Homo sapiens: one gene and its partners. The protein of the gene in region 1 interacts with the protein of each later gene in a pairwise test. Each region holds a gene or a part of one and is shown in the gene's direction. Other genes may lie near its edges.

Region 1 (7,028 bases):
AGCCTTTTTCCTGTTAAAAGAGCATTTTTAAAATGCTGTGCACTGTTGCCTTTCATATTGCTGTCAATTCATATAATAACCAGATACCTGTTGTATGTTTAAACAACAACTCCTCTTTAGCTATTTCTGTACCCTAAGGCTTTCCAGGACCATGACACTAGCCCCATTTGTAAGAGTCAAAAGCAGCCTCCTCTTTCCTAGGATGTCTGTGAGCCCCCAGCTGGACCAGGAATCTAAAGTACACTGTCCCACAAATGTCTGATGAAGTAACATGCCCAAACCTGAGGGAGCCCTGCTGTTTCTGCATTTTCTTCCCTTATCCTTTCCAATTTTCTGTGTGTTTAGAAGTTTTCATGATAAAATGTTGGTTGGGGGCAGACTTATAAATGTAAAAATAAATAAAAGAGTGAAATGTTCTGTTTTCATTCAGATTTCACTTTATCTCTTACCCACCTATGTTAATGGCATTATTGTAACCTGTTGAGTAGGCATAGGTGTTATGCTGATTAATAGATACACTATTCTTCCTATAAAATTAACTAAAGGGATTTTTAAATAACTTAAATTGCATCCTTGAATAAAAGGCAAGTCATAGAAGACTAAGATAACCAGACTGCCATCAAATTAGCAAATAATTTTATTTCAGGAGTCTATTTGTAAGTCAGTGATAAGCTTAGTAATCAAACTTAGAATACATTTTTCCTTGAGGATACTTTTATAGTTGATAGGCTCCTGGGCCAGGCCACAGAAGTTTCTATTAATCAAAATATACCTGAATATCACTTTCATAAAGAGGCTTGTAGAAAGTTATCACCATGTTAAATATGTTCCCATGGGAAAATGTGCTAAGAATGTAATGTAGGATGCCAGAAACTGACCTGCCTTCTCACCAGCCCTAGTGTCAAGGTCAGAGATGACCCTTCTCTCCATTCATTCCTCCCAGCTTCCTACCAAGAAAGACGACTCCTCAGTCCAAGTCATTGATCGTGGTTCTCATAGTTTGAGAGAGAAGTTCTGAGAGCAAAAAGCCTGGACAGGATGATATTATGTCATTGAGGCCTAACCATCATCACTCTAGAACACTTTTTCTGTATTAAAGCATATTATAAGTTTCAAAGAGCTGACTTACAAGTAATGGATTAATAACTAACTTTACTAACTTTACCCATTTGAAGACTGGCATGCTGAACAACCCAATATCATTTCATTCTGAGCAAGAATATCATTCCCAGAAAAAACCAGGAGGATTTGTATCACAACGTACCCTTTCATTTACTTGATTTATTTGTGTTTTCAGGCCCGTGGTCGAGCCAGAGCTGATGAGAGCACCTACGTCCTGGTTGCTCACAGTGGTTCAGGAGTTATCGAACATGAGACAGTTAATGATTTCCGAGAGAAGATGATGTATAAAGCTATACATTGTGTTCAAAATATGAAACCAGAGGAGTATGCTCATAAGGTATTGTTGGTCACCTCTGAATTTGATTTTCATTTAAAAATGGCGGCATGTGGTTGCCATTGATATCTCTGTGACTCATTCTCCAGACAAAAATTGTGCTGAATTATAAGTTTCTGTTTAGTGAACTGTGCTTAATCCAGATTCACATGCAGAGAATCAAGATCCATGGTGGGCAGGAAATTATCAGGGAGCCATTCCTCATTCCAGTAAAACCAACCATAAATTTGGATAATATAAATTTAGCCTGCCTTGTTCCAGAAAGACTGCTGCAACTCACTGATTCAATCCAACATGGTAATTTTGGTTTGATCCAATTTGTTTGTAAAGGCACAGTTTTTTAATTTCAGAAATGTAGATGAAACGCCTACTGTGTGCCAGGTAACCTTATAGGAACAGCCAACAGAGGAAACAAAACACATAAGACTCCTGCTGCACGAAGTTTATATTTCTAGTGTGTGCCTGGTGAAGTTTGGAGGACAGAAACAGTAAACAAACATTAAAAGACAAGAAATATAATATATCAAGATAAGTGAAGAGAATTAGAATAGGATGATATGAAACAACTGACTAGATGGATACTTTCTTGTTTTTAGTAGTTTTTGAAATTCTTTTTTTTCTTATTATACTTTAAGTTCTAGCGTACATGTGCACAACGTGCAGGTCTGTTACATATGTATACATGTGCCATGTTGGTGTGCTGTACCCATTTACTTGTCATTTACATTAGGTATTTCTCTTAATGCTATCCCTCTCCCCTCCCCCCACCCCACGACAGGCCCTGGTGTGTAATGTTCCCAGCCCTGTGTCCAAGTGTTCTCATTGTTCAATTTCCACCTATGAGTGAGAACATGCGGGGTTTGGTTTTCTGTCCTTGTGATAGTTTGCTCAGAATGATGGTTTTCAGTTTCATCCATGTCCCTACAAAGGACATGAACTCATCCTTTTTTATGGCTGCATAGACTAGATGGATACTTTCAACTGGGTGGTTGAGGAAGGTCTCTTAGAAGGAGTGACAGGGAAGCTGCATCTGAATGATAAGAAAATACAGAATATGTCATCTAGCTACATCTCAATTTACTAACACACAGTTATTTGAGTTGTGCAAAGGAATGCAGTGAAGAAAGAATGTATTTCTATAGTATTTCAGGAAATCCCCCATACCACTGAATTAAAAACTGTAACTACTATAATAGCAAACAATCCATTTAGAAGAAAATTCACACCCTTGCATATGGGTGTGAATGTTAGTTTCTTAACATTGGAATTGGCTCTACCTTAAATAGAGTTTCACTAAAGGGATGCTTTCAAATTGGTGTGCATTGCTATTACCAACTCCAAGGTTTCCTGACCAGGTTTCTGCACAAAACTTTATTTTAAAACCCCTTTAAATACAAGGCAAAGCAAATATTTTAGAGTATCAAATCAAACTTTTGTCACCAAATTATGCCACTGGAAAGTTACTGCCTCCCAGTTAATGTCCTAAGAGAATTAATCAAGTAGATGTTTACAAAGACTGATGTTTTAAGAGTAGTTTTTTGGGGGTCAACACTAGGACAATCTCTGGAGTTTAAGGGTCAAATTCTTCCAGACATTCTTTAGAATAAGACTCTGTCCCTTTGGGTGCCCCAGAATGGACTATATTTTTAGGTCTCCTTTGGCCAAGAAACCTGCCCTCCTAAAACTACTTCAGGTAGATGAACTTAGAGTAGGAGTGGCAATGGGGAAGGAGGGCTACATGCCACCAGTAATCTGTTCAAAGCCTGTAGAAAACATTGCTACTGGGAAGATGTTTACTTTCTTCTAATTTGAGCATCTTTCTCAACACAATCTTCAGACAACCACTAATGAATGATGAGAATTGACAGATAAGATGAAATCTTTCTTCCATGTCATAAACACAGTTTAAACATAACAGAGCTTCTTAAAATTAAATCAGACTTCTAGGAGCAAGTTGATCATCATAAATGTTTTTCTCTAGCATTGATTCAATTTTTTTGCTACATTATTACACTTTATTTGGACTTAGGCTGATTGTAGCTGTGCCTCCTGTATATTTATTATGAGTTCTTTTTTTTGTTTGTTTACCCCTCTAGTTACTTCAAATTCCTTTACTATTTTAGAGTTAGTCTTTTAGCTTCTGATGTCCTGATTACAAATCCATACACTTACCTTGGCTTTATTTTTTTTCTGACTCATTCATACACATTTCTTAATTCCCACATGTATGTGATCCTATAATTACCTTATCAGCTCATTGAACTGTAAATGTCTTATAAAAGTAACCTATTAAAACTTTTAGGGAAAAATATTTCAGTGTATTATTTTGCTATAATTTACATAGGAAATTAATCTTGGTACTTGTCTGATTAATCTATTATATAGCCTCCAGGCTTGCTTGCAAGGTTTTATTCTCTTTTCTATGCTATATATGGCTGCCTTGAAGGGAGATCTAAAATGTAGAGTTAGAAGCCAAAGAGATGGGCTTTGTTCAACTGCACTGATGACTTACTTTTACTGAAAATTTCTCCCTCGGTCTTAAAGAAAACAATTAATTCTTCCATAATTTAATATAAATATGTCATCTATGAGAGGTCAGTTTGGCGGTAAATTATTCAAGAACCAGATTTTTCTACCGTGAAGTTGTGTTGGTATAAACACTGTTCAGTCCCTATGTCAACTTTCATATGTTACATAAACTAGATTATTTCCATTATAAAATAAGTGCTGCTGCTAGTCACAGAGCATAGAATAAAGAGGTTGATGGGCATATTCTCTCACAGAAGGAATCTAGGCAGTATTGGCTCCATGAAGTTATGAGGAATCCAGGCCTTTTCTCTCCTTTTTATGCTGTTATAGCATTGGGCTTTCATTCTCATGGTCGAAGATGGCTTTTAGAATTTCAGCTGCCACATCCTCATTCTAGGCAGGAAGTAAGAGGAGAATGGAAAGGGCGAAAGGTACACATGCCAGCTATCTAATTTTTAAGAAGATTTTCTGAAAATTCCACTCAACAGCTTTTTACATGTCATTGACTGCTGGTTTGGAAATGTAGTCATTTAGCTAGCATATTTCCACCCAGAATAAAATTATGGTTCTGTTAGGAAAAATGGACACTGAATGAAAAACTAGTGGTTTCTGCTACAAATGTGTAAAGAGTAGACTGATTAAGATGGTGAAGGGTCTGAAAATTATAAAGCATGAAAAAAGATTAAAGGCATTTGGGTGCTTAGCATAGATTAGAGAAGACTTGGTAATGTAATAACAGTGTTTAGTAAAGAGATTCCATGTGGAAGGAAGTTTAGACCTATTTTATGGAACAGAATTAAAACAAATGGGTAGGCTGGCGCAGTGGCTCACACCTGCAATCCCAGCACTTTGAGAGGCTGAGGCAGGTGGATCACTGAGATCAAGAATTTGAGATCAGCCTGGGCAACATGGCAAAACTCCATCTCTACTAAAAATATGAAAATTAGCTGAGCATGGTGGCAGGTGCCTGGAATCCCAGCTACTTGGGAGTCTAAGGCAGAAGAATCCCTTGAACCCAGGAGATGGAGGTTGCAGTGACCCGAGATAGTACCAACACACTCCAGCCTGGGCAGCAGAGCAAGACTCCATCTCAATAAATAAATAAATAAATAAATAACAAATGGGTAGGCTAGACAGAGAATTTTTGTTGAATATTGCTAAGGACTTTCTCACAATAGAACTTTTCTGAAATGGAATGGGCTACTTTTTGAATACCTGAAGACTGCACATTTTCATGGTTACAGGAGATGATTATATACCAAATTCTTTGGGGGGTCATTACCTCATTATTTTTATTTCCTAGACCATAAGCTAAGGGTATATTTTCACAACTAAGACCTCCAAATTTCAGGAGACTTACTTCTATGAAACTGAAAAAAGAAAACAAACCTGAAACCACTAACTATTCCTTTCTCTGTCCAGATTTTGGAATTACAGATGCAAAGTATAATGGAAAAGAAAATGAAAACCAAGAGAAATATTGCCAAGCATTACAAGAATAACCCATCACTAATAACTTTCCTTTGCAAAAACTGCAGTGTGCTAGCCTGTTCTGGGGAAGATATCCATGTAATTGAGAAAATGCATCACGTCAATATGACCCCAGAATTCAAGTGAGTCCAGAAAGACCCATTTTTACATTTTTCCACAAGGGGTGAAGCAGGTTGCATTGTAAATGTTCTTTCAAAATAGTGCAAATGAGATTCATTTATTTTACAACTTCCTCTCCTTTAGCCTCTCAATTATATTCCTATTTTAAATGTCTATGTTTTAAATAAACTGCACTGGGGCAGGAAAAGAGAAGTGTAAGAACCAAAGCCATTTTGATCCAAGGCACGTATTTTTGTATGCTCATCATTTGTTCTCAAATTTTTGAACAACTAAAGTCAAGTTAATATAACCAACAGACTTGAAAGAAGTTATGAAAGGCAACATGCCCCTTGAGAGGTATGTGTAGAAGAGAAGCATTGCCTTAGTTGCAATAACAAGCCTGGGAAGCAGGAGGGAAGGAAGGAATGCCGTGTAGAATACCGCAGGCATGCGGATGAGCTCCAGGTCCAATAACCCATGAACTACACACTGGTATTTTGTCAGTTCTCCATGATGATTCTTTCCCTTTGATACTTATAGGGAACTTTACATTGTAAGAGAAAACAAAGCACTGCAAAAGAAGTGTGCCGACTATCAAATAAATGGTGAAATCATCTGCAAATGTGGCCAGGTGAGTAAATTGCTGTGGGCCAGATTTTACTTTAGCCAACAGGAATGTTTAATTGCATGTACATTTAATTTTCCTCTTGCTCTCTCTTTTGTTTTCCAGGCTTGGGGAACAATGATGGTGCACAAAGGCTTAGATTTGCCTTGTCTCAAAATAAGGAATTTTGTAGTGGTTTTCAAAAATAATTCAACAAAGAAACAATACAAAAAGTGGGTAGAATTACCTATCACATTTCCCAATCTTGACTATTCAGAATGCTGTTTATTTAGTGATGAGGATTAGCACTTGATTGAAGATTCTTTTAAAATACTATCAGTTAAACATTTAATATGATTATGATTAATGTATTCATTATGCTACAGAACTGACATAAGAATCAATAAAATGATTGTTTTACTCTGCATTGAACTCTTTTTAAGAACACAATATATTATGCATTATCCATCTTATTGTTGGGCAGAGGTAAGGAAAATCTACCAATAATTCTCATTAGTGTGGAGCATTATAGTCCTGTGGAAAGAATGCTGAAGTACAAATGAGAATCCAAAGTACCAGTCTCAGTTCTGTCACTAATTTTCAGAATAAAATTAGGCAAATCAGTTCATCTTTCTGAACCAGTCTCCTTATCGATGAAATGGTCATAACATTCTCTAGTTTTACTTTTTATTAATTTTCTATTGCTCTATAACAGATTGCCACAAAGGTAGTGGCTTAAATCAACAATCATTAATTATAACACATGTCCTGTTGGTCAGAAAGGCAGGGTTCTTTGCTCAGGGTCTCACAAAATTGAAATTGAGGTGTCAGCCAGACTGTGTTCTCATC
Region 2 (7,028 bases), on another chromosome or scaffold:
GGTTTTAGTTATATCGCGTTAATGCTGCAGTTGAACTAGATGAGGTACAGTTTTGATCAAGTGTTTGTAGTTTATCTTTTCATGAATATGTATCTATTCTTTCATTATGGATGAATGAAACATCCAGACTTTCTTTTTTTTTTTTTTTTGGAGATGGAATTTCGCTCTTGTTTCCCAGGCTAGAGTGCAATGGCACAATCTCGGCTCGGCACAACCTCCGTCTCCCGGGTTCAAGTGATTCTCCTGCCTCAGCCTCTCGAGTAGCTGGGATTACAGGCATGTGCTGCCACGTCCGGCTAATTTTGTATTTTTAGTAGAGATGGGGTTTCTCCATGTTGGTCAGGTTGGTCTCGAACTCCTGACCTCAGATGATCCGCCAGCCTCAGCCTCCCAAAGTGCTGGGATTACAGGCATGAGCCACTGCACCTGGCCTCATACTTTCATTCAGAACAAATGAATTCTAGGCCTCAGTTTAGCTTTCTCTCCCAGTTCTCTTAATCCTAGTTGGTACTCCCACAGGTGCATGCCATTGGTCTTAAGGCTAGCTGTGCAGGAGAAGGTAAATGGTTTGATAGAGTTCTTTCCCATTGTTCAATTTTAACATGGAAAAGGCACCTCCTACTCTCATAATTGGCAACCTCTGTTTACTTAAGCACATTACATTAGTTTATATTGCCTTATTTTGAATAGTGTTGCTGAAGGACCATTTATTACTGGAGAAAACATTGATACTTCCAGTGACCTTATGCTGGCTCAGATGCTACAGATGGAATATGACAGAGAATATGATGCACAGCTTAGGCGTGAAGAAAAAAAATTCAATGGAGATAGCAAAGGTATTATAACCTTATTGTGACAACTTCATTGAGTGGTAGAAAACACTCATAATGTGCTCCTAAGTAAATCTTCAACTATTTTTGCTTCTTAAGTTTCCATTTCCTTTGAAAATTATCGAAAAGTGCATCCTTATGAAGACAGCGATAGCTCTGAAGATGAGGTTGACTGGCAGGATACTCGTGATGATCCCTACAGACCAGGTACCAAAGTTTTTACTTTCTGGGGGCAGCAGAATAGAGGTATAGGAAGACTAATCTTTTCAATGAACTCTTTTAGTTTTATATTTTTCTTTGAATCTCATTTGGTAATTTACTCTTAGATTCAAATGTCTTTTCAGACAACGTTGAATGCAGCAATGTAGTCTTTGCTATTTTTATATACCTGGCTTATTTCAATTGCCTTTAGCAAAACCGGTTCCCACTCCTAAAAAGGGCTTTATTGGAAAAGGAAAAGATATCACCACCAAACATGATGAAGTAGTATGTGGGAGAAAGAACACAGCAAGAATGGAAAATGTAAGTTACAGAAAGTATCTATCTCTGAATTTAGAGTTTTGTTTGAATACCTTTCAAAAACAGGATTCTAAATATAATACCTTAGATTTCTAAAAATGTCTTTCTTTCTAAAGATGTTTTTAGATAACAATATGGCAATATCATGGAAACTGAGACATTAATGAAAATATAAAGTACCTCAGAATAAAATTCCATAACAGTGTTGAAAAACTATTTTGACTCACATTGATTCTAAAATTAATAAATAGTTATTATGAAATTAACATTTATTCTTCATCATATCTCTATAAAATAGCATCCCTACCCAAAAAACAGATAACGGTGGCGATTGGGGAATACAAATGGGAGGGAGAAATACTTTTCACCATATACTCTTTTGTGCATTTTGAATTTATTATCTTGTGCCTGAACTACCTGTGTAAAATCAGAAGTAAAGTGTAACTTTAAAAAATAGCATTCTAGGCCGGGCATGGAGGCTCATGCCTGTAATCCCAGTATTTTGGGATGCCGAGGTGGGCAGATCACCTGAGGTCAGGAGTTCAAGACCAGCCTGACCAACATGGAAAAACCCCATCTCTACTAAAAATACAAAATTAGCCAGGCATGGTGGCGCATGCCTGTAATCCCAGTTACTCGGGAGGCTGAGGCAGGAGAATTGCTTGAACCTGGGAGGCAGAGGTTGTAGTGAGCCGAGATCGTGCCACTTCACTCCAGCCTGGGCAACAAGAGTGAAACTCTGCCTCAAAAAAACAAACAAAAAAAAAGCATTCTAAATCCTTCATAAATATTGTGGTTAATATAATATATTAAACATTTAGATTTTAAAGCACAAATGCTTGTTAAGTAAACATATTCAATTATATCATTTCTAGAAATATTCCAGATCTAATTCTAGAAGAGTTCTGTCCAATAGAACTTTCTGTGGTAATGGAAATGTTCTGTATGTGTGCTGTTCAATATGGTAGCCACATTTGCTGTTGAGCACTTGAAATTTGGGTGGTATAATAGAGGAACTGAATTTTTAATTTAATTTTAATTAACTTAAATATCCAAGTGTGGCTAGTGGCTACCTAACTGAATTGCACAGTTCTAGAACATAATTGTCATGGTGTGAACATAGTCTGCTATAACAACCCACTCTCCACAAATAATTACAAAATTGTATTTCTTTGGTAAGATTTGGTGTAGCCTTCACAGTTCAATATTGTGTCCTTTGGCTAAAAGCAAGGTACAATGCACATGCCGAAAGACCTTAGTTTTGGATGTGATGAAATGTTTTCTATGCCTGGAATAAATGCCTTCCTTTGGGTTGTAATTTCTTAAATAGTATTGCTCCTCTTTCTGTGAGTTATTTAATTTTTTTCTCTGTAGTAGCTATGATTTCTGGTTTTCTAGTGTGATCATCTATTGAGTAAGAAAGACTAATCTCATTTGGTTGTTTTTGTTTTTGTTTTTAACTGTCCCTATTTTAAAATATTTAGATGCTAATTCTTCCTTTTGGCAGTTTGCACCTGAGTTTCAGGTAGGAGATGGAATTGGAATGGATTTAAAACTATCAAACCATGTTTTCAATGCTTTAAAACAACATGCCTACTCAGAAGAACGTCGAAGTGCCCGCCTACATGAGAAAAAGGAGCATTCTACAGCAGTAAGGATTTATAGATTTTTTTTTTTCTTTTTTACTAGAAAGATTCATATTAGAAAACTTTGGGTAAAGAAAAAAAAACTTCATGTTTGATATTTTTTCATGAGATTGGCTTTTTAAATCAAAGATGTAAATAAATCCAGCCACTGTGGTGCCCGCCTGTAATCCCACTACTTTGGGATAGCAGATGGAGACAGGAGGATTACTTGAGCCTAGGAGTGCAAGAACAGCCCAGGCAACATAATGATCCCCAGCTCACAAAAAAAATTAGCTGGGCATCATGGCACACACCTGTGGTCCCAGCTACCCGGGGGGCTGAGGTGGGAGGATTGGTTGAGCCCAAGAAGTTGAGGCTGCAGTGAACCATGATTGTGCCACTGTACTGCAGCCTGGGTGACAGATTGAGACCCTGCCTTAAAAAAAAAAAAAAAAAAAAAAATGTAAATAAGCCAGGTGAGGTGGCTCCCAGCACCTTGGGAAGCCAAGGTAGAAGGATCGCTTGAGCCCAGGAGTTCAAGACCAGCCTGGGCAACATAGGGAGACCCTGGGAGACCCTGTCTCAGCAAAAGTTTTAAAAAATTAGCCGGGCATGTTGGTGTGCACCTTTAGTCCCAGCTGCTCAGGAGGCTGAGGTGGGAGGATCACTTGAACCCAGGAATTTGAAGCTGTAGTGAGCCATAATCATGTCACTGCATTCCATCCTGGACAACAGAGTGAGACCCTGTCTCTCTCTCTGTCTCTAAAAAAAAAAAAGATATTAGGCCAGGCGTGGTGGCTCACACCTATAATCCCAGCACTTTGGGAGGCCAAGGCGGGCGGATCATGAGGTCAGGAGTTCGAGACCAGCCTGGCCAACATAGTGAAACCCCATCTCTAGTAAAAATACAAAAATTAGCCAGGTGTGGTGGCGGGCGCCTGTAATCCCAGCTACTCGGGAGGCTGAGGCAGGAGAATCACTTGAACCTGGGAGGTGGAGGTTGCAGTGATCAGAGATGGTGCCATTGTACTCTAGCCTGGGTGACAAGAGCAAGACTCCGTCTCAAAAAAAAAAAGTTATTAGAAGTGGCTCAGAAAATATTTTGTGATTAGCAGTCATTTTCACTTACAGTGCTTTATCTCTTGCAGGAAAAAGCAGTTGATCCTAAGACACGTTTACTTATGTATAAAATGGTCAACTCTGGAATGTTGGAGACAATCACTGGCTGTATTAGTACAGGAAAGGAGTCTGTTGTCTTTCATGCATATGGAGGGAGGTAAATGAGCAAAATATGATACCATGATATGAAAACTTAGTCTCTTCTCCCCAAGATTAATGAATTTACACAGAATCAAAGATAATGCTGCATGGCAAGCAGAGTAATTTTTAAAGTGTTATTGTAGAAAGTCTAGGCAGTATAGGAATGTATAAAAAACACAGTCATCCTAATACCACCACCCAGAGATAATCATTAATAATTTTGGGTAGACTTCTCCAGTTTTTTTCAATGCGTATATTATTATTATTATTATTATTATTTTTTGAGATGGAGTTTCACTCTTGTTCCCCAGGCTGGAGTGCAGTGGCGTGATCTTGGCTCACTGCAATCTCTGCCTCCCGGGTTCAAGCAAGGTCTCCTATCCCAGCCTCCAGAGTAGCTGGGATTACAGGCACATGCCACCACGCCTGGCTAATTTTTGTATTTTTAGTAGAGACAGGGTTTCGCCATGTTGGCTAGGCTGTCCTCAAACTCCTGACCTTAGGTGATCCACTCGCCTTGGCCTCCCAAAGTGCTGGGATTACAGGCGTGAGCCACTGCTTCCGGGCTTCCTCATCTTTATCAGTGTTTAGTATTATCAAATCTAATGCTTTTTGTCAGTGTGAGAGATGAAAAGTAACATCTTGGTATTTTGGTGTGCATTTATTTAATTATGATTAAGTTGTACATTTTTTCCAAGTGCTTTATTGGCCATTTGTATTTCTTTTTCTTGTCTTCTCTCTTGTTTATCCTTTGTCCATTTTCTGTTATACTCAATATACTCCTTTTTTTTTTTTTTTTTTTTTTTTGGGAGATGGAGTTTTGCTCTTGTTGCCCAGGGTGGAGTACAATGGCGCAATCTCAGCTCACTGCAACCTCCATCTCCTGAGTTCAAGCGATTCTCCTGTCTCAGCCTCCCAAGTAGCTGGGATTACAGGCACGCACCACCACGCCTGGCTAATTTGTGTGTTTTTAGTAGAGATGGGCTTTCACCATGTTAGCCAGGCTGGTCTCAAACTCCTGACATCAGGTGATCCACCCATCTTGGCCTCCCAAAGTGCCAAGATTACAGGCGTGAGCCACTGCGCCTGGCCTGGTATACTTAATATACTCTAATATAATAAATGTTCAGTCTTTCTGGTGGAATTGGTATCATAATCTGTACTTTGACATTTCTAAGTTAGCAAAACTAGAGAACATTCAGTTTTCTACAGCTAAAAGTTAATGCTTTTAAAAGTTTGTTAGTTTTCTGTGGTACATAATAAATTGCCACAGACTTAGCAGCCAAAACAGCATCCATTTATTATCTCATAGTTTCTGTTGACAGAATCCAGGCATGGCTTAACTAGGTTCTCTGTTCAGGGTTTCACAAGCCTGCAGTCTAGGTGTTGGCCAGGCTGTGTTCCTTTCTGGAGCTTGGCGTCCTCTTCCCTTGGCCACCTTTCAGTTGCAGCTATACGACTGAGGTCCCACTTTCTTGTTGGCTGTCAGCAGTGGGCTGCTCTCAACTCCTTGAGGCCCCTGCAGTTCCTTGCCATGGGGCCGTCTCACAGGCCTCTTCACACACTAGCTCTCACACTTTCAAAGCCAGCAGGAGAATCTCTCCAGTCTGCTAAGACTGAGACTTAGTGTTATGTTATCATGGGAATGACTAGACCATCACCTTTGCCACATAACCTAACCAGGGAGTGGCTATCCCACACATGCTCAAGGGAAGGAGGTATTATACAGGGGTGTGCACACCAAGGGGGCTGGGAGTTTTGCTTTCCACAAAGCTCTGGTTCCTTTCTTTCTTCCTCTCTCTCTCTCTCTCTCTCTCTCTCTCTCTCCCCCTCTCTCCCCCTCTCTCCCTCCCTCCCTCCCTCCCTCCCCTCCCTCCCCTCTCTCCTCTCTCCCCTCTCTCCTCTCTCTCTCTCTCTCTCCCTCTCCTCTCTCCTCTCTCTCTCTCTCTTTTTCTTTCTTTCTTTCTTTTTCTTTCCTTCTTTCTTTTTTTTTTTGAGATGGAGTCTTGCTCTGTCACCCAGGCTGGAGTGCAATGGCGCAATCTTGGCTCACTGCATCCTCTACCTCCCAAGTTCAAGTGATTCTCCTGCCTCAGCCTCCCCGGTAGCGGGGATTACAGGTACACACTACCATGCCCGGCTAATTTTTGTATTTTTAGTAGAGACGGGGTTTCACCATTTTGGCCAGGCTGGTCTCAAATTCCTGACCTTGTGATCCAACTGCCTCAGCCTCCCAAAGTGCTGGGATTACAGGCGTGGGCCACTGTGCCTGGGTCAAAGCTCTGGTTTCTGTCACTCTCAGGTTGGTCAGGCAATCAACAATTATTCAAACAGTAATTTGTGCTAGATTACTCAGGGAATAAAATATAAGACATATTTTTTACTCTCAAAGAGCTTAAGCTTTAGCTAAAAGGAGAACATTACAGTAAGAACCATTATGGTCAATGAAAGATAATTACATAATAGAGTACCCAGTTATGCAAACGAGACCTTATATGGGATAGGAATAGCGAATAGAACAAGATCATTGCCAGGCACATTCAGGGAAGATATCATAATGAAGTTGGATCTCAATCTGGATTTTAAAAATAGGTTAAAAAAAGAAATCCGTTGGAGGACCGATGGGGGCGGATCACGAGGTCAGGAGATCGAGACGATCCTGGTTAACACGGTGAAACTCCGTCTCTACTAAAAAATACAAAAAAGTTAGCCGGGCATGGTGGCGGGCATCTGTACTCCCAGCTACTTGGGAGGCTGAGGCAGGAGAATGGCGTGAACCTGGGAGCGGAGCTTG
Region 3 (6,883 bases), on another chromosome or scaffold:
TAGGAAAAAAAAAAAATACTAGAAAAGACACTGGAGCGTCACCAGCAGTCACCCCTGGATGGTGGCATTATTATTATTAGTAGTATTTTTTTTGAGATGGAGTCACTCTGTCGCCCAGGCTGGAGTGCAGTGGCATGATCTTGGCTCACTGTAACCTCCGTTTCCTGGGTTCAGGCAATTCTCCTGCCTTAGTCTCCTGAGTAGCTGGGATTACAGATGTGTGCCACCATGACTGGCTAATTTTTGTAGATGGTGGCATTATGAATATGGATTTTGGTTTTCATCATCAAATATTTCTGTTTTCCCCACATTAGCTGTAAACAGTATATATTTTTGGTAAATTAAGTTGAAAGAATGAAAAAATTAAAATAGTATAAAGAATATCTGTTTAAGTGCAGTGGAGTGTGCCTGTGGTCCTAGCTACTTCGGAGGCTTAGATGGAAGGATTGCTTGAGCCCAGGAGTTCAAGACCAACCAGAGCAATGTAGCAAGACTGTGTCTGTTTTATTTTAAAAATAAATAAATAAAACATAAAGAATAACTGTTTAAAATACTATTCAAAATGAAGTCATAAAGGAGGGGATTATGTTTTTTAGTCATAGTTCCCTCAAGGGCTCAGACCGGAGAACATAACCGAGTTTGGAGCCCTCTGGCACTGTCTTTGCGCCTGACCTCTGCTCTCCAGGGGGTGACGTGAGCTGGTGGGTGCTGAGTCATCATGGGTGGGTCACAGCCTCCCTCGGAGGCCTGGAGATGGGCCTGTCTGTGCTGAACTTTACTGGGCAGGGGGCAGCTCCAAGGCCCTCACTGGGGGCAGCCTAGAGCATAGATCACTCTCTGGACTTGCTCTTCTCCTAATAAATGGACAGTGATCAATGAATTACACCCATGAAATAGGGTGGGATGCAATAAGAAATAAAAGATAATATAAATAGCCAGATAGGGTCAAAAGATGATTTATTTTACTTTATATTTTTGAAATAATTTCAGATTTACAACATAGTTGCAAAAATAATGCAAATGTTTACATCTTACATAACCCAGTACAATGATCCTAACACTGACAGATTGTTGTTGTTGTTGTTAATTTGAGACAGAGTTTCACTGTTGTTGCCCAAGCTGGAGTGCAATGGTGCGATCTCGGCTCACTGCCGCCTCTGCCTCCCGGGTTCAAGCGATTCTCCTACCTCAGCCTCCTGAGTAGCTGGGATTGCAGGTGCCCACCACCATGCCTGGCTGATTTTTGTATTTTTAGTAGAGACAGGGTTTCACCATGTTGTCCAGGCTGGTTTCAAACTCCTGACCTCAGGTGATCCACCCACCTCGGCGTCCCAAAGTGCTGGAATTAGAGGCGTGAGCCACCATGCCCAGCTAGATTATTGTTAACTGATCCAAAAGCCTTATTTGGATTTCACCTGAAGTCCTTTTTCTGTTTCAGGATCCAACCCAGGTTCCCATATTGCATTCAGTTGTCATGTCACTTTGGTGTCCTTTTCTCTGGAGCAGTCTCTCAGTCTCCTTGTTTTTCCTGACCTTGAAATTTTTGAAGAGTTATTCTGCAGAGCAGTGCTATCCAATAGAACTTTCAGTGATGATAGAAATGCTCTGTTTGGGCCTGACGCTGTGGCTCACACCTGTAATCCCAGAACTTTGGGAGGCTGAGGCAGGCAGATCACCTGAGGTCGGGAGTTTGAGACCAACCTGGCCAAGGTGGAGAAACCCCGTGTCTACTAAAAATGCAAAATTAGCTGGGCATGGTGGTGCATGCCTATAATCCCAGCTACTCGGGAGGCTGAGGCAGGAGAATCGCTTGAACCTGGGAGGCAGAGGTTGTGGTGAGCCGAGATCACGCCATTGTACTCCAACCTCAACAACAAGAGTGAAACTCTGTCTCAAAACAAAACAAACAAAAAAAATAGAAATGCTCTGTGTCACCGAGTATGAAGCCATTAGCTACATGAAAATAGCATTTGAAATGTGGCTCATGGGCCAGGTGCAGTGGCTCACGCCTGTAATCCCAGCACTTTGGGAGGCCAAGGTGGGTGGATCACTTGAGGTCAGGAGTTTGAGACCTGCCTGGCCCATATGGTGAAACCTCGTCTCTACTAAAAATACAAAAATTGGCCGGGCGTGGTGACATGCGCCTGTAGTCCCAGCTACTCGTGAGGCTGAGGCAGGAGAATCACTTGAACCCGGGAGGCGGAGGTTGCAGTGAGCCGAGATTGGGCCACTGCACTCCAGCCTGGGTGAAAGAGTGAGATTCTGTTTCAAAAAAAAAAAAAAAAAAAAAAAAGAGAAATGTGGCTCGTGGGTCTCAGGAACTGGCTTCTAAGTATTATTTAATTTTAATTAAAATAGCTACATGTGGCTAGTAGCCATTGTATTGGATAGGACAGCTGTCAAATGTCTCTCGTTTTGGGTTTGCTTACTGTTTCCCTATGATTAGTTTCAGATCATGAGCTTTTGATAGGAATACCATAAGCATGTTGTTGTGTTCTTCTTTGTCTAAATCTTTATAAAAGCTGTTGATAGGTGGCAGGGAACCACCTAGTCAGGCAGTGGGATTGTTTGAATGCTCTTTGAGGTCCAGCAAAGACAGGAGTGATAGCTGCACTTGGAAGCCCGCTCCTACACTTTCAATGTTCTTCCTGAAAGAATTAGATATGAAGCTGCTAGAGCTGCTCCGGTGGGGAGCAGGCAGGATTGATTCTTGAACTAATCAACATTTATGCCCTCTTGGCTAAACTAGGCAGAGCTGGTTTTATTACAGTTCAGGTGTGATTAAGCATACTTTGTAAATGCTGAAGGTTGTGAAATATTCACAGGGATATAAAGTACAGTAATAAAACCTCACTTGAGGCTGGGCGTAGTGGCTCACGCCTGTAATCCCAGCACTTTGGGAGGCCGAGGTGGGAGGATCACCTGAGGTCAGGAGTTTGAGACCAGCCTGGCCAACATGGTGAAACTCCGTCTCTACTAAAAATACAAAAATTAGCCGGGCGCAGTGGCATGTGCCTGTAATCTCAGCTACTTGGGAGGCTGAGGCAGGAGAATTGCTTGAACCCAGGAGGTGGAGGTTGCAGTGAGCCGAGATCGCGCCATTGTACTCCAGCCTGGGCGACAGAGCATGACTCTGTCTCAAAAAAAAAAAAAAAAAAAAAGAATAGAAGACCCTGTGCCTGGAAGATCGTAGGTGCTCAGTAAGTGCTGGCCTCTGCCCCAGAAGGGGAAGGGCGAGGCAGATGGCAGGAACTGCGGGAGGTACCTGTCCCAGGCCCTTGGGCGTAAGAGGCCTCTCCCACGCAGCACCCAACCCATACCCAGCCTGCCCGCCAGCCAACCTTGGCGTCCCTGCCTTGCGCCTACCTACCCAGCAGTCCCCCGCCCGCTCCCACTCCCACAGGCCCAGCGTGCACGTCTCCAGGATAGGCATCCTTGCCCCTGTGACTTCAGCGGCACCCAACGTTTATTGGGCACTAACTGTATGCCAGGCCATGGGGGTGCCGGAGAGAACGACACGAAGACCCTCACCCCTCAAAGTTCCCAGGGGGAGGAGGGGCTGCTTCACTTGGGAAGCGTGGGGATGGAATTCTCAGCCCCCCGATGACTCCGAGGCCGGCCACCTGCCTGGTTTCTGGCCGGACACCGGACTTCCCCTGGAAGTTGCTCGAGACTGCGCGCCCCCAGCAAAAAATCAGGTCGGTTCTCCGAGCCCAGTCTAGCGCTTCCCGACCCGCAAACCAAGGCCCAGTGACCGTCCCCGCTGCGCAGCCGCCTGCGTCGCCAGCCAACCACGCGCGGCCGAGTAGCCCCGCCCCTCCACATGGCCAATGGCCGCGCGCTCTGCCCGCCCCGCCTCCTCGCTGCGGGAAGGGTCCTGGGCCCCGGGCGGCGGTCGCCAGGTCTCAGGGCCGGGGGTACCCGAGGTAAGATCGCTTCCCGGGCGTTGGGTCCTTTCGGCTCAGCACGCACGGACGCCTTTAGGGAAGGTGGCTGCAGCGGCAGGACGGAGTCCGCCGGGACGCCCTGGGTCTGGGGTGCGCGGGGGGCCCAGGAGGGGACAGGACGCGCGGGGATCCGGAAGAGCGGGCCCTGTCGCAAGAGTTTCGGGAACACTGAGGGCTCCAGGCGCCGCATCCAGCATCCGGGGAAAAGGGGGTAGGTGGCGCTGGGCGTCTGCTCAGGCTGGGGGAAAGGTAGGGCCAGAAGGGGACGGGCAGCGGCCGCTGACCTCCTCCTGCCGCCCGCGGGCCCAGGGTGACGCTAAGGTGGGGCCGAGCCTCGACCGGGTGCGCCTAGAGGTCGAGTGCTGCCGCCCTCCGCTGGGTCTGGACAGTTCTCGGCGGCGACACCAGCTCAAAACGGCCTCCCCGCCCTCCGCGGACCTGGGTCGCGCCCAGGAATCCGATCCAAGGCTGTGAGGCCTGTCCCTTTGGGAAGGGTGGGTGTTTATTTCCGGGATGCACTCAGAGCCTCTGGACAGTCAGGTCGGAAACTTTGCTGTATTGGGAACACTCTGTCACCTACTTCCTTCTCAGTTGGGAAGGAAGTGCCAAGAAAACATGAAACAAACCAAAAACACGAAAAAGGGATTCTCTGTATGGAAGCCGTGAAGCCTCAAAAATATCTAGGAGGACAGCCAGCGACCTGGGACCTGTGGCAGCCATGTGAAAGCAGGGTTAATGTCTGGACTAAATGTTGCTTCCACCTAAGTGCACCCTCAGCCTCCCTCCCGCCAAGTGACCTTGGGTCCTCTTTGGGCTTGAAGGCAGGTGGCTGTGTGGGTCTCGCTGCAGGGGTCTCTGTGCCCTGCAAGGTGTATGACCAGTTGCAGTGAGGCAGCAGGTTTTGGGTTCAAATCCTGTGCTAGCCTCTGGCCAGCTGTGCACCTTGGCAACACTTTCCCTGTCACGGGATTGGGGAAGGATTAACTGAAAGAACCTTAGGATGTGCCTGTCTACAATGGGCCCTCCATAAATGTGAACAAATGTGGGCTTCCTTTCCTTTTGTTTGGGCCACATCATCCCTTCCCCTCCATCTGTGGCTGAAGCTGGAATGCAGAAGAGTGCCTCATCTGACTGCCTTCTGGTACCTGGCTGATGCCATGAGAAAGGAAGGAGAAAGGGGTCTTTTTTTTTTTGAAATGGAGTCTCACTCTCTTGCCCAGGCTGGAGCGCAGTGGTCCAATCTTGGCTCACTGCAACCTCTGCCTCCTGGGTCTAGAGATTCTCCTGCCTCAGCCTCCTGAGTAGCTGGGACTACAGGTGTGTGCCACCATGCCTGGCTAATTTTTGCATTTTTAGTAGAGACGGGGTTTCACCATGTTGGCCAGGCTGGTCTCAAACTCCTGACCTCAAGTGATCTGCCTGCCTCGGCCTCCCAAAGTGCTGGGATTCCAGGCGTGAGCCACCGCGCCCGGCCGAGAAAGGGATCTATTAACTCCCATAGAGTTGTTCTTTGCTAATTTCTTGAAGGCTCAGAGGACCCCCGCCTCACCTTCCTGATTCTCCTGACCTGTCATTAGTACTTGCCCCACGAGGAATGTAGCAGGGCCTGCTGGCTGGCAAAGCAACTCATGCATGTGAGGCTCTGAGGCCAGTGACAGGACTGCTTCCCCTGTGAGGAAGGTCTGGTGGCCCAACAGCTTTTAGGTGCTGTCTGCTCTACAGCACTGCCTCCTGAGAGAGGTCTCATGCCTGCCTGATGCCCACTTGGTCCTCTCCTGCCTCCTTCCCTCCCTGACAACCCACTTGGAATCCAATAGCATCTCAAACTTCACTTGTTCCGAACTGAGTTCTGGAGTCCCTTCTGAGCCACTGCTCCTCCCCTGGCTTCTCTGGCCTGGTAAAAGGGCACCTTCCATCCACCCAGTGCCCAAGGAGTCATGCTTCTTTTCTCTCCCTTATCTCCTACACCCTCAAAACACCAGGAATCTGGCTGCCTCCTGCCATCTCTGTGGTTCCCATCCTGACCATAGTCATCCTGTCTCCTGGGCTGTGGCCTCCTTACTGGTCTCCCAGTTTTCATCCTGGCCCCTCCAAAGTCCTCACAACCACCAGAGAAGTCTTTAATGTAAATCAGATCCTCTTCTTTCCCTGCCGGAACCTTCCAGTGGTTCCCTGTTTCACTCCAACTAAAACCCAGAGTCCTTTCCTACAGCACTCTACATGAGTGGCCCCTGCCACCTCCTTGACCTTGACAATCTCTGCCCCTTTCCCTAGCTTGCTTGCTTTTTTTTTTTTTTTTCCTATGATGGAGTTTTGATCTTGTCACCCAGGCTGGAGTGCAATGGGATGATTTCAGCTCACTGCAACCTCTGCCTCCTGGGTTCAAGCGATTCTCCTGCCTCAGCCTCCCGAGTAGCTGGGATTACAGGCGCCCACCACCATGCTAATTTTTGTATTTTTAGTAGAGAAAGGGTTTCACCATGTTGGCGAGGCTGGTCTCAACCTCCTGAGCTCAGGTGATCCACCCGCCTAGGCCTCCCAAAGTGCTGGGATTATAGGCGTGAGTCACGCAGCCAGCCATCCCTAGCTTTCTTGACCTAGACCACACTGACCTGCTTTCTATTCTTCAAACATGCCAAGCTCATTCTTGTTTTAGGACTTTTGCATTTACCATGCTCTCTGCCTAAAACACCAATCTTCTCAGAGCCTGAGAACAGCTCAGCTGTGTTCTGCACGCTAGTTCAGAAAGGCTTCTTTGACCCCCTAGTTCAAGTAGCATGCCTGTCTCCAGGGGCTCTGTCTCATTACCTGCTTTACTTTCTTTAGAGCCTTTATTGCTATCTGGAACTCTTATTTGGGTATTAATTTACTGATCTGTTATTTGTCCCACCCCATTAGAATATAAATTGGATGTGGCATAGACCTTGTCTCTTTTA
Region 4 (6,876 bases), on another chromosome or scaffold:
TAGTAGGTGCTTGGCAACCATATAGGAACTTGACATCAATGACATGCAGCTCCTCCAGGCGGATGTTGAAGGCCTTGAGTTCTTTATTATCGCGATCTAGTGGAATAACCTTGAAAAGGCCATCATAGAGACGCAGGCCAATCATCCGGCACTCAGGGTCAATGATGCCAATAATGCCGGTCTCTGAGGGGCGGCCAATGCGGTCCTGAGAAACAAAATCGGGATTAGGGAAGAACCTCAACATCCACAGAGCAACAGAGGACGCTGGGCACCACTTGTGCAGAAAAATTTTAGGAGAGGTATTAAAACTAATGGATCTATTTGATAGGCCAAATAGTTGGAGCCCCAATGTCAGTGCATGCCTTTTTCATGAAACACTGAATCTCAATGAATTATTACCCTGTCCCTTGGGTCTTGAGTGAACTACAGGAGTCCTTTCTCCAAAAAGCTCAAACCCATAGTGTCTTCTCCTTATTTCTCTGATCGAATAGAGAGCTGCCCCCAGCACTTTAATTTTTTCCATGAATCATGACAGCCCTACTTAGAAAACTTTCATTGGCCTAAAGCAGCCACCTCACCTGGACATTGCCATGGGCTCGCGTAATGATGTCAATGCTCTCGCCACTCTGTTTATACTCCAGGATGCAGGCATTGTACTTCGCTGTCAAGATAAACAGCAGGTCCTTGCTCTCCCCCTGGAAACCAATATTATGCTATCAAAAGAGGTTCTTTTTAAAACAGGAACAACCTGTCCAGTCTTTAAGCACACCAAATTCTTTAAGAATTTTCCAAATTCTTCTCTCCCTAAAGAGAAAATACATGGTGAGCTTGTAACCCACACTAGGTACACATACACCCTAAGGGCATGTACAAAAAGCCAGAACTGAAGCTGGTAAACATCTAGTTCTCACTTTCATGATTCTCCATCTCTCTGTTCTACAAACAAAGTCTTCATCTATTTCAATCTCAAGCTAATCTCAATCATCCCATTCAAATTCTGAAAGATGAATGTAATGCCTCCTCCACTCCTCCCCAAGTATTTGAAGAAAGAGGAAAAAAAATGTGGGAATAACAACGGAAGCTAAAATGGATCAACAAAGTCCTACTTATTTAACACAGACTCCAAAAAATTGCTGTTTTGTTCAAAGGGTTATAATTAAAATTTTGAACCCACTGCTTTCTTGCCAGATTCAGTTAAGACAACATAAAGCAATGTGGTGGTGATTTGGATGAAAACATTTGCGCTAAAATAATGAAAATACTGATGGTAATTGTTTTTTTTGTTTGGTGTTTTTTTTTTTGGAGATGGAGTCTCGCTCTGTCACCGGGCAATGGGCGCCATCTCCACTCACTGCAACCTCCGCCTCCTGAGTTCAAGCAATTCTTGTGCCTCAGCCTGCCAAGTAGCTGGGATTACAGGCACGTGCCACCACACCCGGCTAACTTTTGTATTTTTAGTAGAGATGGGGTTTCACCATGTTGGCCAGGCTGGTCTCGAACTCCTGACCTCACGTGATCCACCCACCTCGGCCTCCCAAAGTGCTGGGGTTACAGGCGTGAGCCACCATGCCCGGCCTGGTAATTGTTAACATAACTGTAAATGCTTGCTATATGATAGGCCCTATGTTACTGAATCATTTCATCGTCACAACAACCCAGGGGATTTGATCTGAAAGGTGCCTTAAGTGGCACCTAAAGTCAGAATTAACAAGAAATGAAGCCAGGACTGCCCCACTCTGTAGCCTATCCTCTGAAACAAACTGCTTTAATTTCTCCCTTCTAAAGAAGTCAACTTCATAAATGTTTCCCTAATGAATCTCTCCTTTTACTTCTAGAAAGCTTGGTCAAGAGTACATACTGAAATTTGCTATCCAAAGAGAGAAAAAAGAGAAGAGTTTTTCTCCTAAAGCATATTCCACCCATCCCAAGAATTCGCAAAACAACCTAACACAGCCCAAGCACGGTGGCATGCCTACAATACCCCAGCTACTCTACTCCAGAGGCTAAAGTGGAGGGATTGCTTGAGCTCAGGAGTTCAAGACATCCTGGGCAACACTGTGAGACCCCCGTCTCAAAGAAAATAAATAAACAAACAAAAATAACATAAAACAACCTACGACCAACAGTTCCCCCTCCACTGCTTGTCCCAACTGCAACACTTACCTTGGGCCTGAAAAGCTCCATGACCGCAATCTTCCCATACATGCCCACCTCTTTGACGGGCCGAAGCCCCTCGGCGGTGACCACATAGATCTCTAATCTCGTGTTTTTGGCAATCAACAGGTTTAAGTCTTCGGCCGAAGTAAAGTGTCCTGAAAGAACAGACCCTCTAACTTTTGAACTCAGGGGAAGGGCCTCCCATCCCTTCAAAATAATCCTATCACTTATGTCTAAATACCTCCAGAATTCTCATTTACTTCACATACTTCTCCAACTCCCTCCAGCTACTCCCCTTCTTGCCAAATCCGGCACCTCAAAGAGTCTCAGTTCATGCATTCAACAAAGCTACTTCCCTAATCAGACTAAGAAAACTGGACTGGACCTAAGAGCCGTGTGTCCTCCAAATGACAATGACTGCGTAATCCCTTCTCATGCCTCTTGCCCCTCCAATTTTACTCTATTACAGTTACAGTGGCAGGCTCTAATTGAGAATGCCGGAGAAAGTGTTCACTTCTTCCAGTCTTCATCTAAAGTCTCACAAAACTTTTATCTGACAGACCAAGTCAAATGAAGAAGTCCCAGAGCTTTATATGAAAACACTGTTTTGTCCACACCCCCTGCCCTCCTGGCAGTCTACCAATACCTCCATCCACACTCAGCTACCTCCAACTCTGAACAACAGTTTTGTTTTGGAATCATGATTAGGGTGTATATAAACATGCAAGCTTGGGGTCTGCATATTCAGCTGAGAATGTGGGTTAAGATGACTCTTCCCGGGTTCTGAACATCGGTGTCCTTAACAATCCAAGCGCATCGTCAACAAGGCAAACCCAGCACTGGGCCAGGCAAACCAAACCCTCTTCTCCAGCAGGGCCCTCATGTAAACAACAGCCCCAGGCAAAGGGGTTAGCCTGAAGAGGGCTCCTCTCCCTCTGTGGGATAATGCGGGCATTCCTCACATCCCTCCACCTCCTGGGCCCCCCAGACTTCCCCACAGGAAAATCTTGACCCCAAAGTCGTCATTACCACCTCCCCTTTTCCTGGCCACAGAAAGCCAATCTCCGGGCCCAAACGACACCGCACAACCAACTCACACTCCTCTGTCTCACTGGGCCCGCCCTGTTCTCGAGGCCGAATGACCTCCCCAGGACGAAAGGGGACCCTCGAGAGCGGCTTCCAACCCCCAAAAAGCGCGTACAGGGACGACTCTTTCGAGGTCGCGGTGCTGGGGGAGGTTCCTCGGCCGCCAGCGCCTTCCATTCGCCGGGCCCACTCCTGCCCGGCCGCCCCCGGGGCGGCGGGCCTCCCTAGGCCGCGGCTCCCCCCAACTCCCTCACTCGCCGGGGTCTCCGGCCCCGGCAGCCTCACCGGTCACGCAGCCGTTCACGGCGGTGGGCTTCTGGGCCGTTACCACGTAGTTGTACGACATGTCGAGGCTTGGAGCGGCCCGTCGGGACTCGAGCGCGACACTAGAAAGAGGGACACAAGCGAAAAGACAGGTGGCCCCCAACAGCGCGCAGCGAACTCCACTGCCGCTGCCTCCGCCCCAGAGACACGTTGCAGGCCAGAGCGGCCGGGGCGCGGGGCATCACGGGACGGCCTCACCTGGCCTCTTGGAGGACTCCCGAAGCCCGAGGCCGCCAACCGAAGGAGGCCCCGCCCCCGGAGGCACCGCCTCGCCTCTTTCCGCCAGCGCCCGCAGGACCCGGATGAGAGCGCACGCTTCGGGGTCTCCGGGAAGTCGCGGCGCCTTCGGATGTGGCGGATGCGGCCGTGAGCCGGCGGGGGAGGTGCGCCAGTGTCCTCCGAGCTCGCCCGCAGACTCCCCACCCCGTTCCGCGCCCTTTGCCCTTCCCCGCATCCAGTCCTCCTTCCGTTGCTCCAGGAGCCCTCGGGCTGTTCCTCCTTTGGGAACGGGAAGGACTGCGGAGGCATAGAGAGGGAAGGGAGACCGCGATTCGTGCATATCCCAGACTAGAACCTTGCCTGCTTTCCTTTCACTGTCTCAGTTCCTCCAGATCCAGCTGGTGCCCTCGCCTGACGTTTGAACGACCACCTGCTCACCTCCTCCCTTTTGCGCGTTGATTCTTCAGACTTCAAAGGGCCCACCGGTCTGCTTGCCCAACGTTATTAGTGCCCCTATTGCTCTACAAATTCGAACCTCAAACACAAAACCAGTATTTCTCCGTAGGGAACCTTAATGAGCCAGGAGAGCCGTCAGCCCTGCAGCCTCCAGGGTACCCCACATCAAACAGGCTCCCCGGGAACAAGAGGAATACCACGTGGCTTGGCACACTCGCAGAATGCCAGAGAGGAGCCAACCCCCATTTTACAGATGAGGAAGCTGAGGCTTAGGGAGGAATTGGTTTACCTAAGACCCTCCCCACAACCCCAAGTAGGCTGAGGCAGAGCTATGTTGATTCTTCCTATTGTGCACCCACACAGAGGCCAACACGCTGCTGAACCAGGCTGAACTGAGGAAAAGCTAGAAAGTCATCGTGGTTTACATCTTGCCTTTCCCATAGCAGAGACTCTGCCTGACTTTGGAGGCACTGAATTATCAGTAGTAAAAACACACTCTGTAGAAAAACTAGACATTGGTTTAGATTCTGGCTGTTACCTGTATTACCTTGGACAAGTCCCTAGAGCTCTCTGAGTCTGTTTCCCAGAAGTAAAATGGGTCACAAACCTGGCTAGCTCCCCCCATTCCCTTCCCTTTTGGTGCCAAGGCCAGTGAGGGCAAGCGTGTGACGAGCTTTGTTAACTTTTTCGCTGCATGTGATGCCCGTGTAAAAGATAGTTATTCTGAGGATCACTGTCCTTTAGTGATGAAGTGGGTGCTGTTCCTGGACATAAAGGCAGACCTGTGCTTGACATGGATTGATCTGTCTTCTGGCAGTGAAGTGCAGGCATGAACCTTGGTCAGCCCCACACTCTTCTCCATCCGTAGCCCATGTACTAGAGTTTGGACTTGGACCGAAGTCTGGGGCAGCTCCCTAATTACTAGGGTGCTGAAGGCGTGATTGTGCCAGTCGACTGCGAGTTCCTTCCGCAGCTTGTATCGTTACCCACTCCTGCAGGTGCTGCTGCTGCCTCCACTGTACTCAGACCCAGGTAGCACAGGATTGTCCATCCTCCAGCAGCTCAGTGCAACGGTGTGAACTCAGCCTGTTTCAGAGCCTCCACACCATGGTGAGTCATACAGGGCCGGGACGGGAATGGCAGCATGGTCTCAAAGCAGGATCCCAGCCTTGGGCAAGCTAAAGCTCCTTACACTTTGACTGAGAGATGCTATTGCCTCCTGAGGCTCACGGGTGAAGAGAGAGGGTCATCCTCTCTCCCAGGGTCTGATCCCTGCTTTTCTTTGTTTCCTGGAGGCTGCTGGTCCCAGCCAGGCCTGGGGCTGCAGCCTCTTGAGTCCCTTCAGAGCCACTCTGCCCCTTATCTGGGTCTTGCATTCAGAGTAAAACAGTAACAGTTACCTGCTCTGTAATAGACATTGTACCGGTCACAGAAGGAATCGTGAAGAATGACCATGTGACCGTTCCTAACCTTGGGGCTTATGTGGGCCGGTCTGGAGCTGGGATCTACAGTGTGGGAGGCTGGCCATGTCCCTGGGCTTTGCTCCAGGCCCACTGATTTGAACCAAAACAAGCCTTGAACATATCTGGATTCAAATTTCAGCCTGCCACTGACCAGCTGCATGACCTTTTACAGACCTCTCTGCGCCTCTTTTTCTTCATCTGCATTATAAGGCAAATTAAGGCCTACCTCCAGTGGTTGTGTGGTGTTGATCAAGCAGAGTCCTGGAGGCCTCACTTGACTTCCTTTCCTTTTCCATCCTTTCAGGCCACTGAAACCAGGGATAGCACTGGTCCCTAAACCCTCTTCTGGCTCTGTAAAAGACAGATTATCATGATGGGGAGCAGGCCACTTTCTTGGAGGGTAGTGCTGCTGGAGGCTGGGCTTGGAGTGAGGCCAACTCACAACTTCATTGTGTGTTCCAGTCCCTGGTAGGCTCTGAGAGCCACAAACCCATGTCCTTTCTAGGGCAACCTCTGTCACCCTCCACTTCCCTCCAGCCCCTCGAGAAAGCAGCATGATATGGCCAAAAGGGAACCAGCTTTGGAGCCAGGCAGACCTGGACACCTGCTGGCTGTGTGACCTTGGGCAAAATAGTTTAACTGTGCCTCAGTTTCCTCACTGGGCTCATCTTTCCTCCATAGGGCTGTTGGGAAGTTTTGTTTTGTTTTAGTTTGGGTTTTTTTTTTTGAGACGGAGTTTTGCTCTTTTTGCCCAGGCTGGAGTGCAATGGCGCAATCTCGGCTCACCACAACCTCCGCCTCCCAGGTTCAAGCAATTCTCCTGCCTCAGCCTCCCGAGTAGCTGGAATTACAGGCATGTGCCACCACGCCCAGCTAATTTTGTATTTTTAGTAGAAATGGGGTTTCTCCATGTTGATCAGGCTAGTCTCGAACTCCCAACCTCAGGTGATCCACCCGCCTTGGCCTCCCAAAGTTCTGGGATTATAGGCATGAGCTACCACACCCGGCCTGTTGGGAAGATTAAATGAGACATGCTCAAAAACACTTAGAACTGGGCCTGGCTCTTAGTCACTGCTCAGCAAATGGAACCAATCTTATTGTTCTTCTTGCTCCCTACAGACCTAGGCTACTCTGAAGCAGGTGGCTTAGCCCTGGCCCTGGCTGGATGCAG

What was found.
Region 2: the proteins of IFIH1 (region 1) and RIOK3 interact in binary tests that used the Homo sapiens proteins (3 or more experiments, as listed by UniProt).
Region 3: the proteins of IFIH1 (region 1) and MAVS interact in binary tests that used the Homo sapiens proteins (3 or more experiments, as listed by UniProt).
Region 4: the proteins of IFIH1 (region 1) and TKFC interact in binary tests that used the Homo sapiens proteins (3 or more experiments, as listed by UniProt).

Annotation. Positions count from the first base shown.
Region 1 is NC_000002.12:162,266,657-162,273,684, reverse strand, and holds the end of IFIH1 (interferon-induced helicase C domain-containing protein 1), read left to right. Parts: intron 1-1,297; coding exon 1,298-1,459; intron 1,460-5,407; coding exon 5,408-5,598; intron 5,599-6,115; coding exon 6,116-6,206; intron 6,207-6,305; coding exon 6,306-6,485; 3' UTR 6,486-6,611; downstream 6,612-7,028.
Region 2 is NC_000018.10:23,463,277-23,470,304, forward strand, and holds part of RIOK3 (serine/threonine-protein kinase RIO3), read left to right. Parts: intron 1-690; coding exon 691-836; intron 837-929; coding exon 930-1,037; intron 1,038-1,242; coding exon 1,243-1,352; intron 1,353-2,856; coding exon 2,857-3,000; intron 3,001-4,122; coding exon 4,123-4,250; intron 4,251-7,028.
Region 3 is NC_000020.11:3,842,978-3,849,860, forward strand, and holds the start of MAVS (mitochondrial antiviral-signaling protein), read left to right. Parts: upstream 1-3,856; 5' UTR 3,857-3,926; intron 3,927-6,883.
Region 4 is NC_000011.10:61,329,380-61,336,255, forward strand, and holds the start of TKFC (triokinase/FMN cyclase), read left to right. Parts: upstream 1-3,848; 5' UTR 3,849-3,950; exon of another isoform or gene 3,951-5,240; 5' UTR 5,241-5,349; coding exon 5,350-5,352; intron 5,353-6,460; exon of another isoform or gene 6,461-6,558; intron 6,559-6,824; exon of another isoform or gene 6,825-6,870; coding exon of another isoform or gene 6,871-6,876. Other genes in the region: DDB1 (DNA damage-binding protein 1), read right to left, coding at 1-205, 579-695, 2,164-2,312, 3,529-3,589.